Homo sapiens: one gene and its partners. The protein of the gene in region 2 purifies or fractionates together with the protein of the main gene of each other region. This does not show direct contact. Each region holds a gene or a part of one and is shown on either strand. Other genes may lie near its edges.

Region 1 (3,500 bases), on a different chromosome or scaffold from region 2:
AAAAAGAAAAAAATTAGCTGGGCATGGTAGTGCATGCCTGTGATACTCAGGAGGCTGAGGTGGGAGAATCACTTGATCCCGGGAGGCAGAGGTTCTAGTGAGCTGAGATCACGCCACTGCACTTCAGCTTGGGTGACAGAGAGAAACTCTGTCTCAATAAATAAATAAATAAATAAAACACTTTCATTCAACAACTATTTGCTGAGTCCCTACTATGTGCTAGACATCACCAAGTACACAGGATACAGATCTCTGTAGATTCACTGCTGTCTATATGAATGGCTGTTAGCTGAATTGTGCAGTACAATCTGTATAGCACAGCAGCCCTGTAAGACCACTGTAAACTAGCAGGGCCGAAACTGCAGGCTCCACAAGGATCTTAAGGAGTTCACAAATTCCCATGCATATCAAGTACACTCTGTACACAATAATATCTTGATATTTTTAATGCATAATAGATGTTAGACTTAACAGAGTATCATTTTAAAATATTACTGAATTCCTACTGGACCTGCTTTTTGCTTTTTCTCCCCCACAATTAATATGTTCTGAAAGTATGTTACTGTCCTGTCTCTCAAGGTTTTCAGTGTTAAAAAGGTATCTTCACAGGGTCTATTGTCTCAGACAATAGGGAGGAATTTAAAACTTCTGAGTAGGAAGACCAAGGCAGGCAGATCACTTGAGGTCAGGAGTTCGAGACCAGCCTAGCCAACATAGTGAAACCCCATCTCTTCTAAAAAATACAAAAATTAGCCGGGCATGGCAGTGGGCGCCTGTAGTTCCAGCTATTCAGAAGGCTGAGGCAGGAGAATCACTTGAACTCGGGAGGCGGAGGCTGCAGTGAGCCGAGATCGCGCCACTGCACTCCAGTCTGGGTGGCAGAGAGAGACTCTGTCTCAAAATAAAAAAAATTCTGAGTAGGAAGAGTGGCACGCCTCCAGTCTTTTCTCATTCCACCCTTGCCTAGTTACTATACAATTTCTTTTTCTTTCATTTATGAGCCTGAAAAATCTTAATCACAATTACTTAGTGTGAGAATAATACTTGTAGCATTAAGTTTGTCAAAGAAATACTTAAGTGCTGAAGACATATTGTTCTTCAAAGTGCTTTAGAAAAGTGATTTGGGCCGGGCACGGTGGCTCATGCCTGTAATCCCAGCACTCTGGGAGGCCGAGGCAGGCGGATCACCAGAGGTTGGGAGTTCGATACCAGCCTGACCAACATGGAGAAACCCCTCTCTACTAAAAATACAAAATTAGCCAGGCATGGTGGCACATGCCTGTAATCCCAGCTACTAGGGAGGCTAAGGCAGGAGAACCGCTTGAACCTGGGAGGCGGAGGCTGCGGTGAGCCGAGATCGCGCCATTGCACTCCAGCCTGGGCAACGAGAGAAACTCCGTCTCAAAAAAAAAAAAAGTGATTTGGACCGGGCGCAGTGGCTCATACCTGTAATCCCAAAACTTTGGGAAGCCAAGGCGGGCGGATCACCTGAGGTCAGGAGTTCAAGACAAGCCTGACCAACATGGAGAAACCCTGTCTCTACCAAAAATACAAAAATTAGCTGAGCACGGTGGCACATGCCTGTAATCCCAGCTACTCGGGGGGCTGAGGCAGGAAAATCGTTTGAACCCGGGAGGTGGACGTTGTGTTGAGCCCAGATTGCACCATTGCACTCCAACCTGGGCAACAAGAGCGAAACTCCATCTCAAAATAAAAGAAAAAGAAAAAGAAAATTGGTCAGAGAGTGTGTACAATTTTGTGGTTCTTGAACTCATACTGCCAAATCACTTTTTTTTTTTTTGGAGCCAGAGTTTCACTCTTGTTGCCCAGGCTGGAGTGCAATGGCGCGATCTCGGCTCACTGCAACCTCCGCCTCCCAGGTTCAAGTGGTTCTCCTGCCTCAGCCTTCTGAGTAGCTGGTATCACAGGCATGCGCTACCACACCCAGCTAATTTTTTATTTTTTATTTTTTTTTGAGATGGCAACAGATTGAGACTCTTTAAAAAAAAAAACCTTTTATTCCATTGTTAATAATGACTATTTCTACCGCTTATTAAATATACTTTAAGAGCTAGTTTTAGGACCTATGAAAAAAGCAGTGTTTTAGCCAGCATTTCCCAATTCATCTACAGGCTCACATCATTACATTCAATATTGATGTCTGCCGGGCTCATGGCTTGACATCCCAGCACTTTGATGGGCTGAGGCAGTAGGATCACTTGAGCCCAGGAGTTTGAGACCAGCCTGGCAACATAATCTAGACCCTACCTCTACAAAAATAAAAAAAATTAGCTGGGCATGCTGGCATATGCCTGTGGTCCCAGCAACTCAGGAGGATGAAGCAAGAGATCATCTAAGCCCAGGAGTTCATGGTTATAGTGAGCTATGATTACGCCCCTGCACTCCAGCCTGGGCCACAGAGCAAGACCCTGTCACTATGAAAAAACAAAACAAAAAAAAATTATGTCTATTTCAATTTGTATATTTTTGAATATTTAATAATTATCTAAAATTTTCTCCTTTATAAAAATAGAATAGTTTGAGAGTATCCAACAATTTATCTACTGAATGTGTGTCAATTAGTGGGAATTAGGAGAATGGCTCATGATAAAGTCATTGCATTGTTATAACTTAATCTGAACACTGAATGCAGTAGCTTTTCTTTGTATAACAAACTGTTAAAGACAAGAAATATAAGTACATTGATGATGAAATACAAGAATGAGTACATTTATCTGATCATGATTCTTAAATGATACATCAAGATATCTCTGATTGATTGATTGATTGATCTTACAGTGTCTTGCTCTGTTGCCCAGCCTGGAGTGCAGTGGTGTGAACCCTGCTCACTGCAGCTTCAACCTCCTAGGCTCAAGCAATCCTCCCACCTCAGCATCCTGTGTAGCTGAGACCCCAGATGTGCGCTAATTTTTTCATTCTGTGTAGAGATAGGGTCTCACTATCTTGTCCAGGCTGGTCTCGAACTCCTGGGCTCAAGCAATCCACCCACCTTTGTCTCCCAAAGTGTTGGGATTATAGATGTGGATTACAGGCGTGAGCCACCATGCCCAGCCTCACAAAAACTATACAAAAAATATACTCTTGGAAATCATTAAGCATGACCTCTAGAACAAACACATTTAATAAAAAAGAATAAAAACTAACATTCTATTTAAGAGATATTACTATTATTTTGAAATCAGGGAACCTATAAAAGGTTTGATATACAAATTTTACCACAGAGTAAAATCTGATAAAACTTTCTCAGTAACTTAAGATAATTTTACGTACAGAAATTCAATGCAAGATACTCTGAAAATGACTAGAATGATGATCCTACAGAGAACTAGCTGAGGCTTGTTTGTAAATTTTACTGAAATAGGAAATAATTCTGTCTTTGTATACAATTGCTTCCACGCATGAGCTTTATCTAAGGAAAATAACCTCCTATGTTGGGTTAATAATTTTTTTTTTTTGAGATGGAGTTTCACTCTTTTTGC
Region 2 (3,972 bases):
CTGTAATCCCAGCTACTTGGGTGGCTGAGGCATGAGAGTCGCTTGAACCCGGGAGGCGGAGGTTGCAGTGAGCCGAGATCGCACCATGGCACTCCAGCCTGGGCGACAGAGTGAGACCCTGTCTCGAAAACAAACAAACAACAACAAAAAAAAAAACCAAGGGTGAGCTACCTTGGTCTCCAGACCATACAAGCAACCCCTACACTCAGCAAGTGTCCTGTAAATACAGGCTATTGTTAGTCTCCAGGGTGAAGGATGTGAATGACTCCTCATGGAATGAGTCCACGGCTGGGACCCAGCTCAGAGCTCTTGGATATGACAGCAGCAGTCAGCCGCAGGAGGACCCCCCTGGTGCCTGGAGCCTGTTTGTCTAAGTCCAAACTCTCTTTCCAGACAGACGGTGACCCCAGGACTGAAGGAGAGGGCCCCAAAAGAACAGGCCACCCCGCCCAGCACCCCCTGTACACCAAGAGAGCACCTGTCTTCTTGCCTCGGGTCTCACTCACTCTATCCACCCTCCACAGTGGTCCATAGTGATCCTTCTAAAGGGCAGTTCTGACCGTGACACTCAACTGCTCAAAACTCTTCTGTGGCTTCTTGTTGCCCATAGGACCAAGCCCCAACTCTTGGGCCTTTCACACCAGCCGGGTGACAGCCGTGAAGGCTCTTCTTCATCAGCTAGACTGTCTTTGCCTTGACAAGCCAGAGCCCAGTGTTTGGAGCGAAGCCCAAGTTAAATTTGATGAGTTATGTGACCTTGGACAAATTCATTTCATTTCTCTGATCCCTGAGGGTGGTGAAAACAATCAAAAAGTGCTTCCAAATAAGGACTAACATTTGGCTCAGAGAGCTCTCTGCAGAGGGTCCAGAAAGAGCCACCCACTTTCTGGAGAATTCTTTCATCTTCAGAATTCCCAATGAGACACCGAGGAGAAGCCTCTGCAGCCCCCAATCCTCTCCCTGGAGGTCTGTTCATCCTAATGGCTTCTGTCCTTTCTAAGTGACACGTCTACACCTCCAGCTCTGGGTTTAAAGATGCATCCCTTGAAGGGTCCACAGACACTTACATCCAATATAAGGACGTCTTCCTGACAGCAGCTCTCATTTGACAGCAAATCCCCTCTAACTGGACCTTCTCGGCAGCTCCTGAAGTTTATCCCCTGCAAGTCCAAACCCTTAGTCTCCATCAGGAGCATCTCTGCCTCTATTCCCTTCTCCATCATGTAGCTAAAGGGCAAATTCTAATATGCTAATTAGACCAGACTTTCCACTGTTTAGAATCTTCCGGACTCCTGATCATTCCTGGGAGAGTTCTAAGCTCCTTCATATCCTTTCCCCCTGCTCTACCTTGCTCTCTGTCATCTGTTCATACCCAGACTACAATTCTGGCTCTCCTCAGGGATACACAGCTGAGTGGGCAGTACACCTTGCTTTCCCTCAGCTCTAGGCCTGGACTTGCACTATTTCCCCTACCCTAAATACCCCTTGACCTTTGCTTCCCTGGGTGAACTCTGGAATCACCTCCTCTGGGAAGCCTTCACCGACTAAGCTTGCATTTGGTGAGCCTCACTATTGGTCACTTGCTTTGCAATTTCCTATCACGTACAGCTCTTATCACCTGGTATTGTGAGCATCTGTTTCCTCCAAGACATGCTTTCATTCACTCATTCAACTATTTGTTGAGCACCTATATGTGCCAGGAACTATCTGGGGTGGTGGGGAAACAGCAGTGAACTAACCAACGTCCCTGTTTTCATGAAGTCTATATTCTTGAGGCTCTTTGAGGGCAGGAACTGCCTGGCACCAAGGAAACACTCCATAAAAAAGATGATTAGTGTTGTCAGTATTACCTGGGACACGGCACCCAAAGCACTCTTAGCTGAGCGAGCTGCAGCCTGGAGGCCCTGCTGACCTGGCTCTGGGGTTTCCAGGCGTTTCCAGGAGGGCCCTGCGCGGAGGTTGAGGTTGACGGCTCTCAGGGGCAGCCTCCTTTGGAACTGTCTGCACAGGGACCCCAGGGCCCCTACAGAGGTCTCCTGATGGCTGACCACAGGCTGCAGCTCCTTGCTGTCCTCCAGCTGCTCCTGGTGCTGGAGAGATCTCCGGCGCACGGAGGTCCCCATGTTCTGCCACCGAGAAGCCATCTGCCTGGCCAAGAGTCTTCTCTGTCCACTAGACCCTGGGGAGGAGGGCGAAAGGCAGATCAGCAAGGCATTCCCCATACCCATTCCCAGGCCCCACAGAGACCCTGGACACAGGGGAAGAGACGGGATGCAGCGGGGTGGCGGGGGCGGGCGAGTTGGTAAGTGTGGGTGCAGGAAGGAGGATGCTTCCTGGAAGAGGGGCCTCGGGTCAGCAGCATTTCTGATGTCCCGCCCTTCAAGTTTCCAAAACAGCTGTCTTTTCATCCCAACCTCCTTCCTCTCTCTGGCTCAGGCGAGGAGGGGAGGCAGGGTCAAGACACGCCGTAGCCGAGCTTCAGCGCTGGGCCCAGGACACGATCACCATCTTCTTCACCAGCTCGCCCAGACCAAACGCGCACCCGCCCAGACCCCGGCCTTCCCACCAGACGCCCCGATTTCGATCCGACTTCTTGTGGTACCCAGACGACCCCACAGGCCGTGCGTGTCCGAACCTGATGCCCTCCCCTGTGAACAGAACCTGATGCCCTCCCCTCCGAACAAAAAAATTGTTTTGAGTCCAGATCGCGCCATTGCACTCCAGCCTGGGCAACAAGGGCGAAACTTGTGCCCAGCCCGCACTCACCCGACACCACTAAGGCCGAGCACAGCCGCAGCACAGCTGCTCCTCGCCCACCGCAGCCGATTTGAAACTCTGCGCGGCTCCGCCCCCGGCCCCGTCCTCACAGCTGATTGGTTCCGTCCCCGCCCCCGCCACCGCCACCGCCCCGGGGATCCGATTGGCTCCCTCTCTCGCGGCTGCAAATGCTGCGCTTGGATTGGCCCGGCCGTGCCCATTCATCGCTCCGGCCCCCGCCCCGCCGCCAGCCTCGTGGCTCCGGGCTTTGTATCCTGCGTCCCGCTCGCGCCACTGCCCTTGCTAGCCCAGCCCCCGCGCATCGCACACCGGGTCCCCTCCCTGGAGCGCGCACAGGGTTCAGGCTGCTCTGACCCATGGGGTGGAGGCGGAGGTCCTGGGACCTAGGCCTCCTGGCTCAGGCCCCAGGCCCCAGGCCCGGCAGCGGGCAGAGACCCCTCTCATCCTGCCAAGGGGTCTGGCTTTTCCTTCTTGCTCAGTGGTTTTGTCAGAAGGAGCCAGGGACTGGCAGTGCAGAGCCCTGGGTTCCCAGAGACGTTTTCTTTCAAATTTCCCTCCTGACCCTCCCTTCCTGTGACAAGACACTGTCCCTCTCTGAGTTCCCCATACTCGCCATCCACGCTCCGCCCTCCCTAGAAAACGCGTCCCGGAAGCGGGGATAGACCAGAGTACCGGTCTGCCCTCCACCCGTCTACACCGGCTCCCCGCCCCCGCCTTGCCCCACGCATCCCTCCCTCTCTCCAGCGGAATGCCTGCCTCTCTTCTCCTTAGCATCCAAACAAATGCAGCCATTATAAAGCTCTCTCCAGCTCATCTTTCTCCTTTCGGTGACCTCAGAGCAGTGCTGCCCACTCCCCCGGCTGGTTTCTTTGTTACTTCTCCGCACAAGAGCCTGAGATGATGGCTTCTTGAGACTCTGTCTTCAGCCCTCTCCGTTTCTGGGTGGTCTCACCCACTCCTTTGGCCTCAGTGATTTCCAAGGAAAGGATGATGATAATGATTAACGTGTATATGGCACTTAGTATGCACAGGTACCGGTGTTGCAGTTTATTAACTTACTTGATCCTCTGCTATGGTTTGAATGTGTCCCTCAAATTTCACATGTTGGAAATGTAATGCCCAAATTCATATATCGGTGGCATTTTTTGTTTGTTTTTGAGACGGAATTTCACTCTTGTTGCCCAGGCTGGAGTG
Region 3 (3,500 bases), on a different chromosome or scaffold from region 2:
AGCTTACTTTCTAGGATATAGTTCCTTCAAAAAAATAATTTAAAATGTTCTTAAATTCAAATCATTAAAATAAAATGAAAAAAAGCTTTGTTTATATACTATAAAAACTCATTAGAATAATTAACTTATCTTGCTATGAGAGATAAGCCTATCACTTCAGAACTGCTTAAGGGCAGCAAACATTCTTATTGGTACAAGGGGAAAATTCTTTGACTAGCAAAATCTTTCAGGTCTTAATTAAAAAAACATTTAAAACATTTATGTCTTGACCATAAAGCTGGTCGAGACAATTATGGTCACAACATGTTCCCTGTGTGATAATACCATCTGAGTTTTATTAGAACTATATCATATACTTAACACAAAGATAAGTTATTCCCCAAAAGTTAAAAAAAAAAAATTCTACACCAAAATCGAAATAACCACCATGCATTTTCTGGTTATGGAATAAAAATTCAACATTAAAAGAATAATCTCATAGTTAAAAACACACTTGGTCCTTCCTCTTACATTTAGTTTTATCTTTATTAAATGTCATTTCATAATTTAATTGAACATAAATTCCTAAATTATTTATAATAAATGAACATACCTTCAAGGGATAAAATTGCTTCATTGCCATTTTAATACTTATCAAGTTCTCATGTATCAAGTGTAATAAAAAACTACAAATAAGTAAACACCACAGAATGAGGAGGAGAGATGCATGTAACATCTAAAATAGAATTCATCAATGCTTACCTCCCCATGTACTTGCTACCTGAGAAGCAGTTGACATAGGATGTACAGATGGGTGAAAAGTTGGCTGCTGCAAATCAAGCAGATCATTGGGCAGCTTTGATGTGCTAGAAAGATATTTTGGAAACGTGTTTTATTTACCAGAAAAACTTTGCTACTTTAGTGTCACCTTCTCCACCCACCACAGATAAAAACATTAAAAACAAGGGAGAAAAGTCTCATTAATATAAATCTCAAAAGAGGAACAGTTTCTTCATATGACAGCATATTTCTAAGGAGGCTTGGAAAAATAATCTAATATCATATCTTAAGTTTATATAAGATTCAAAGAACAGTAGCTCTTCTGAAAAGGATGAATGTCTTCCCCTAGAAAAAACTAATTTCCCTATTAAAATGAACCTAAACAACAAGATTCTAAAATACAAAATATCACAGCAATTTTAATATTTTTAATAAAACTCTTTTCTTACTTTTAATATTCACAGAACTTGAATCACATTTGCAATACACTACACAGTAAAATACTCATTAACCTCACTTCTAGTGCCTCAGTGTCCAAACTATGTATCAATGATACAGGGAAAAAATTTTACATGCATTTATGAATAGAGCCACCCCATCACACAACACACTATTTACATGATATATTTCTTTCTTCTTTTTTTTGAGACAGAGTCTCGCTCTGTCGCCCAGGATGGAGTGCAGCGGCGTGATCTTGGCTCACTGTAACCTCTGCCTCCCAGGTTCAAATGATTCTCCTGCCTTAGCCTCCCAAGCAGCTGGGACTACAGGTGCGCAGCACCGCATCCGGCTAATTTTTGTATTTTTAATAGAGACAGGGTTTCACCATGTTGGCCAGCCTGGTCTCAAACTCTTGACCTCAGGTGATACGCCTGCCTCGGCCTCCCAGAGTGCTGGGATTACAGGCGTGAGCCACTGTGCTCAGCCTCTTTTTTTGTTGTTGTTTTGCTTTTTTTGAGACAAGAGTCTCACTCTGTTGTCCAGGCTGGAGTGCAGTGATGTGATCTTGGCTCAATGCAACCTCCACCTCCTGGGTTCCAGTGACTGGCATGCCTTAGCCTCCCAAGAAGCTGGGATTAAAGGTGCATGCCACCATGCTTGGCTAATTTTTGTCCTTTAGTAGAGACAGGGTTTCACCACACTGCCCAGGCTGGCCTCGAACTCCTGACCTCAGATGATCCACCCACCTGAGCCTCCCAAAGTGCTGGGATTACAGGCGGGAGGCACCATGCCTGGCTTACATGATATATTTCTACCTCAAGACTTCTATGTAATTTTTTTTATTTGAGACAGAGTCTCGCTCCGTCGCCCAGGCTGGAGTGCAGTGGAGCGATCCTGGCTCACTGCAAGCTCCGCCTCCCGGGTTCATGCCATTCTTCTACCTCAGCCTGCCAAGTAGCTGGGACTACAGGCGCCTGCCACCACGCCCGGCTAATTTTTTATATTTTTAGTAGAGATGGGCTTTCACCGTGTTAGCCAGGATGGTCTCGATCTCCTGACCTCATGATGCGCCCACCTCAGCCTCCCAAAATGCTGGGATTACAGGCATGAGCCACCATGCCCGGCCGACTTCTATGTGATTTTAATGAACAACTCAAAACATGACCCCAGAGTGTCTAAGAATTCAAACACAGTACAGATAATTTTTTTAAGAGAAGGGGTCTGGAGGCTGGGTGTAGTGGCTCATGCCTGTAATCCCAGCACTTTGGGAGGCTGAGGCGTGCGGACTGCTTGAGTTCAAAAGTTCAAGATCAGCTTGGGCAAAATGGCGAAAAAATACGAAAAATAGTTGGGCATTGCGGAGTGCGCCTGTAGTCCCAGCTACTCGGGAAGCTAAGGCAGAGGGAATGCTTGAGCCCAGGAGGTTGAGGCTGCAGTGAGCCATGGCTGTGCCACTGCACTCCAGCCTGGGTGACAGAGTAAGTCACTGTCTCAAAAGAGAGAGAGAGATTGAGAGAGAAACAGACAAACAGACCAAGAGATGTTGCCCAGGCTAGCTTGTACGGCTGGGCTCAGGCCTTCCTCCTGCCTCAACCTCCTGAGTAGCTGGGACAACAGGCACACGCCACCACACCCAGCTCCTAATTTTTAACTTATATATTCTCCAAAATAGAATGTTTTTCTTTTTAAATGGATATACAATAATTGTACATATTTATGGGATACATATGATATTGTGATACATGCATACCATGTAATTATCAGGACATCTATCACACCTCAAACATTCATCATTTCTCTGTGTTGAGAACATTCTAAATCTTCTAGCTACTTTGATATAGGTAATACAATTGTTTTTAATTAGTAATTCTACTGTGCTATCAAACACTAGAACTTATTCCTTCTAACTGTATTTTTATAAAAAAGTTTTGAAGACATGTCTTTTAGATGTACAATAGTTGTGTAGATAGTAGATATAAACGCATTTAGTGCTTTGGGGAACATATAGAATATACAATAATAATTCTGTAAATGGGCTGTAAGATTTGCCCTTAATTACTATTAAAAAGGTGAAAATTTTTAGTATGTGACATAAAACATAGTGAAATTAGTTCTTTATCCAATAATTTGTTTCAGCCTCGAACAATGAACATTCTTTTCACTTCTTTCTCCTAGGACAGACTTCTTTTCAAGATCTCCATGTTGAGAACTTGCCCCTTAATGGGGTCAATGTTACTTAACTGGGGATTAAAGAAGGTAGCATACATGAGCAAACAAATCATAAAGCTGAAAGAAAAAAA
Region 4 (3,500 bases), on a different chromosome or scaffold from region 2:
AGAAGTTCTAAACATTTTATACTGATTCAGTTCATGAAGTTTTAAAAAAATCAGATTATCTGTTTTTATATACAAAACATCCCTTGATTATCTGGGACAAATTAACTAAAGTCCAAGAGTCCTGGGGCAGAATGGTTCAAAGCCATGGAGGGCAGAGTGGGGAGTGCAAGGGCTCATATTGGAGCTCTCCAGTTGATGTGTTCTCCTTCCTACCCAACCCCTTTACTCCAAGGAGGATCTCCTCACCTTTAATCATCAATCTGCCCCCCAGAACATTAGTTTGGTTTTTAACTGTGATTGAATTATCTTACAAAGAGCTCTGATTGAGGCAAACCTACACAAGCTGAATTAAACCTATTTATGCTTGTGGTTATAAATAACACAACAGTAGAAATGGTTTTTTAGAGAAGAAAAGCTTATGACATACAAATTGTATGTTTTTCGAAATGAGAGCTTTTATACGCTTCACTGAGAGTTAAAAATTAGTTTTTTTCTCCCATGAAAATGACAAAACTTTATACATGCCTATGTTTGCTATCTTAAAGAATTAAAACATTTCATATAAAAAATAAGCAGTTTGACCTTTTAAACTGAGTTTTGGGGTGTGTGTGTGTGTGTGTGTGTGTTGGGGAGGGGTGACTGTTCTTTGTGTTCAGCATTGATAAATAAGCTTGTTCATTTCTCCTAAGCAAGCTGGCAAAGGAACAGGATGGGCATTGTGCCATTTCCCAGGGCTTCATGGCCTGAGTGGAAAGTGGACAGTGGGGTGTCTGGGCTTCACTTGGATGAAACCAGCACATCCTGCAGGGCTTTGGGGAGGAGGGTGTGGACCCAAATGTGAAAATATTAGAAAAAACACTGAAGCGCTAAAGAAATGTAAGAGAAAGTATGTTCTCACAGCCCCAAGGCCAAAGAGTAGTGAAATAAGCATTGTTGCTCCTTATGAAAGATGGCACAGATGCCAGGATGCAGCTGACAACATAAAGCAAGAGTCTTGCCATCTTCCAACAAGTGACTTTTCTTCTAGGAATCTATCCCGTAAATAAATAATCAGAAATGCAAAGATTTACATTCACTATTATTTATAATAGTGAAAAATACAGGAGAGAAAACCTTACATAACAAAATAGAATGGTAAGTAAATTATGATTTCATTGGGAAAAAGGAATTCTGTATATCATGATTAAAATAGCCATTATAAAGGTTCCTGAAGAAATTTTATCACATGGAAAAATGTTCATGACATAATGTTAGGTGAAAAAAGCAGGTACAAAATTATACATACTAATAATATACCAACTATATAAATATGCACATATAAAATTAGAGGAAATACATAAGTAGTTTAACAAGTGTTATGTGTGGGTGGTTGATTTTAATTTCTTATGCTTTTTTTATATTTTAAAATTTTTCCATAATATTTTTATTTTTAAAATAAAAAGTCATTAAATGAAAAAATCTGGTTATTTTCTGAATAAAAATATTTTTCTAATAGAAAAATAGAAAAAATATTTAAACATTCATTTTAGTTATATAATTGGGTTTTAACAGGAATATGGCCAATAGATTTTTTGATAAGTGACATCATTTTAAATACTAGAAAATCGGAAAAATTACTGTGTTTGTTTCACATTCAAAATTCCCATTAGTACAGTTCGAAGTCCCCCCGCCAAGATTAAGACTCTGGCATCATTTTACACATTTTTCTTAGGAGTAGAATAAAATGCTTTGTCCAAGGACCTACTTATTTTCCACTTTTGCAGCATACACTTGGTCTTTCTCCACTGCTATGTGGCGCTCTTCAGACACGCTGTAATATAGAATCATCTCTTCCATCAGAACTTCCAACTTATGTATCTCCTGCCAAGGCTGGATGACGAAGTAGCCTGGGTGACAGGCCACAGGCACATACACATCCATGTGTTCCCCTGGCTTTGATAAGTGGACAGGAGGTGGCAGTTCCTCTGTGGAGAAAGCGCTCGTATGGTCCACCATGGACTTTTTGATGACATCTGTGAGGTTCTTTCTGAAATTCTCTCCAGTGTTGCCCGACATGGGCATGTTGCCATTTTTGCTGTTGGGAGAGTCAGCTCCACTGGATATGGCACTCAAAAACACATCCTTCTGATGCTTCCACAAGTCTGCATTTGTAATCTGGCGATTAATACTGCGATGAGGGTCAGGGAAGTTCTTAGGGGTAAATAAATAAACATGTGCGATCCCTCTGGTTTCATCCACTTTTGTAACCTTTGGAAAACACAAAAAATGATATAAGAAATACAAGTTCACATTAAATTTTGAGAGGCAGTTATAGTAACCTTAATCATTAAAACACAGTATTTTGCCAAAACCCTTGCTAAAATCCATTTTATTTAAGGAAAAATAAATTATCACAGCTTGGCAATGAATGGGCTCTGAAGTCAAAATAGTCTAGGGAACAGTGCAGCCTTATGGAAATAAAAAATTTACTAATCTTTAAAAAGTCTGAGAAAACTTTATAACTTGCTAAGGTCATTATCATTGACAGAAAGGATTCTATATATCATGATTAAAATAGTTTAAATTAATGATATTTCGAAACACTTAAAGTAGAAATGATAAGTATGATGAACCCTGATATACTCATCACCCAGCATCAATAATAAAAAACAATCACAATGATGGCAAAATGATTTATGAGCGTTCTGCTTAAGGCTGGTGTGTCCTCAAGACTGGGAAGGGAAGGAAAAAGCTCTGACAACCACCATATCTGTAAGCACCCCTCTTTCAAATTCCTTGTCTGGTCCTAGTATATGTCCTCACCCCTTTCCCCATCGCCAATTACATGGGAGGAGAGGGACCTGGGGAGAAAAAGAGGAAGCAAGCTCCACAGAACGGGTCAAAATTAGTTTTACACTTTTTGTCCAGGAGACCTCTGACTACCTAACCATCTTTGCTCTTTCGGCCAGAGGGGTGTTTGTATGGAAATATCATACATTAATAATTGGGACTGTACTGCTGTGTGTCCCAAGGAGCTAGGTGACTGTTGGCTATTCTCATCAGCAACTCTGGTTTATCTTAGGAATGATAAAAATAAGATACTTCCAGCCACATTTATCTTTTACCAAATAGGGCTAGAAATGAAAGGCAGGAACACAGGTCTGCGGAGAGGGAGATAACAGCAAGGCAACCCATCTACAGTGATTTACTTAAAATTTCTTTTTTTTCCCAACAAGATGCCTCTATTACATTCATCCTCTGAAGTACTAATTAAATACTGACTGCAAATTCATTTTGAAATTTATAATACAGAAGTACAGTTTTAAAAATTAACAAAAAGTACTTTTATTGAGTAACCATCCAATATTCTGGCTTTAGGAGCTTAAAGAGTAGCTGAGAAAACAGTATTATCATGTGACAACTGAAGAATATGGAATAGTATATAATTAAGCATGTAATTGTACACTATAAACCCCAGAGGAATACAAAGACAGAAAAATCACTGCTAGCTAGAATAATTT

The links. Proteins that work in one complex are often made in the same cells at the same time.
Region 1: the proteins of PIMREG (region 2) and ZYG11B purify together in Homo sapiens (affinity purification with mass spectrometry; one large-scale study listed by BioGRID and IntAct). This does not show direct contact.
Region 3: the proteins of PIMREG (region 2) and PICALM purify together in Homo sapiens (affinity purification with mass spectrometry; 2 studies listed by BioGRID and IntAct, with this or other methods). This does not show direct contact.
Region 4: the proteins of PIMREG (region 2) and TDRD7 purify together in Homo sapiens (affinity purification with mass spectrometry; 3 studies listed by BioGRID and IntAct, with this or other methods). This does not show direct contact.

What each region holds. Positions count from the first base shown.
Region 1 is NC_000001.11:52,732,953-52,736,452, reverse strand, and holds part of ZYG11B (protein zyg-11 homolog B), read right to left. Parts: intron 1-3,500. UniProt on the Homo sapiens protein: Serves as substrate adapter subunit in the E3 ubiquitin ligase complex ZYG11B-CUL2-Elongin BC. Acts to target substrates bearing N-terminal degrons for proteasomal degradation with the first four residues of substrates being the key recognition elements.
Region 2 is NC_000017.11:6,443,283-6,447,254, reverse strand, and holds the start of PIMREG (protein PIMREG), read right to left. Parts: upstream 2,801-3,972; 5' UTR 2,767-2,800; intron 2,180-2,766; 5' UTR 2,145-2,179; coding exon 1,851-2,144; intron 1,845-1,850; exon of another isoform or gene 1,224-1,844; coding exon of another isoform or gene 1,068-1,223; intron 1-1,067. UniProt on the Homo sapiens protein: During mitosis, may play a role in the control of metaphase-to-anaphase transition.
Region 3 is NC_000011.10:85,996,085-85,999,584, forward strand, and holds part of PICALM (phosphatidylinositol-binding clathrin assembly protein), read right to left. Parts: intron 846-3,500; coding exon 742-845; intron 1-741. UniProt on the Homo sapiens protein: Cytoplasmic adapter protein that plays a critical role in clathrin-mediated endocytosis which is important in processes such as internalization of cell receptors, synaptic transmission or removal of apoptotic cells.
Region 4 is NC_000009.12:97,481,596-97,485,095, reverse strand, and holds part of TDRD7 (tudor domain-containing protein 7), read right to left. Parts: intron 2,248-3,500; coding exon 1,745-2,247; intron 1-1,744. UniProt on the Homo sapiens protein: Component of specific cytoplasmic RNA granules involved in post-transcriptional regulation of specific genes: probably acts by binding to specific mRNAs and regulating their translation.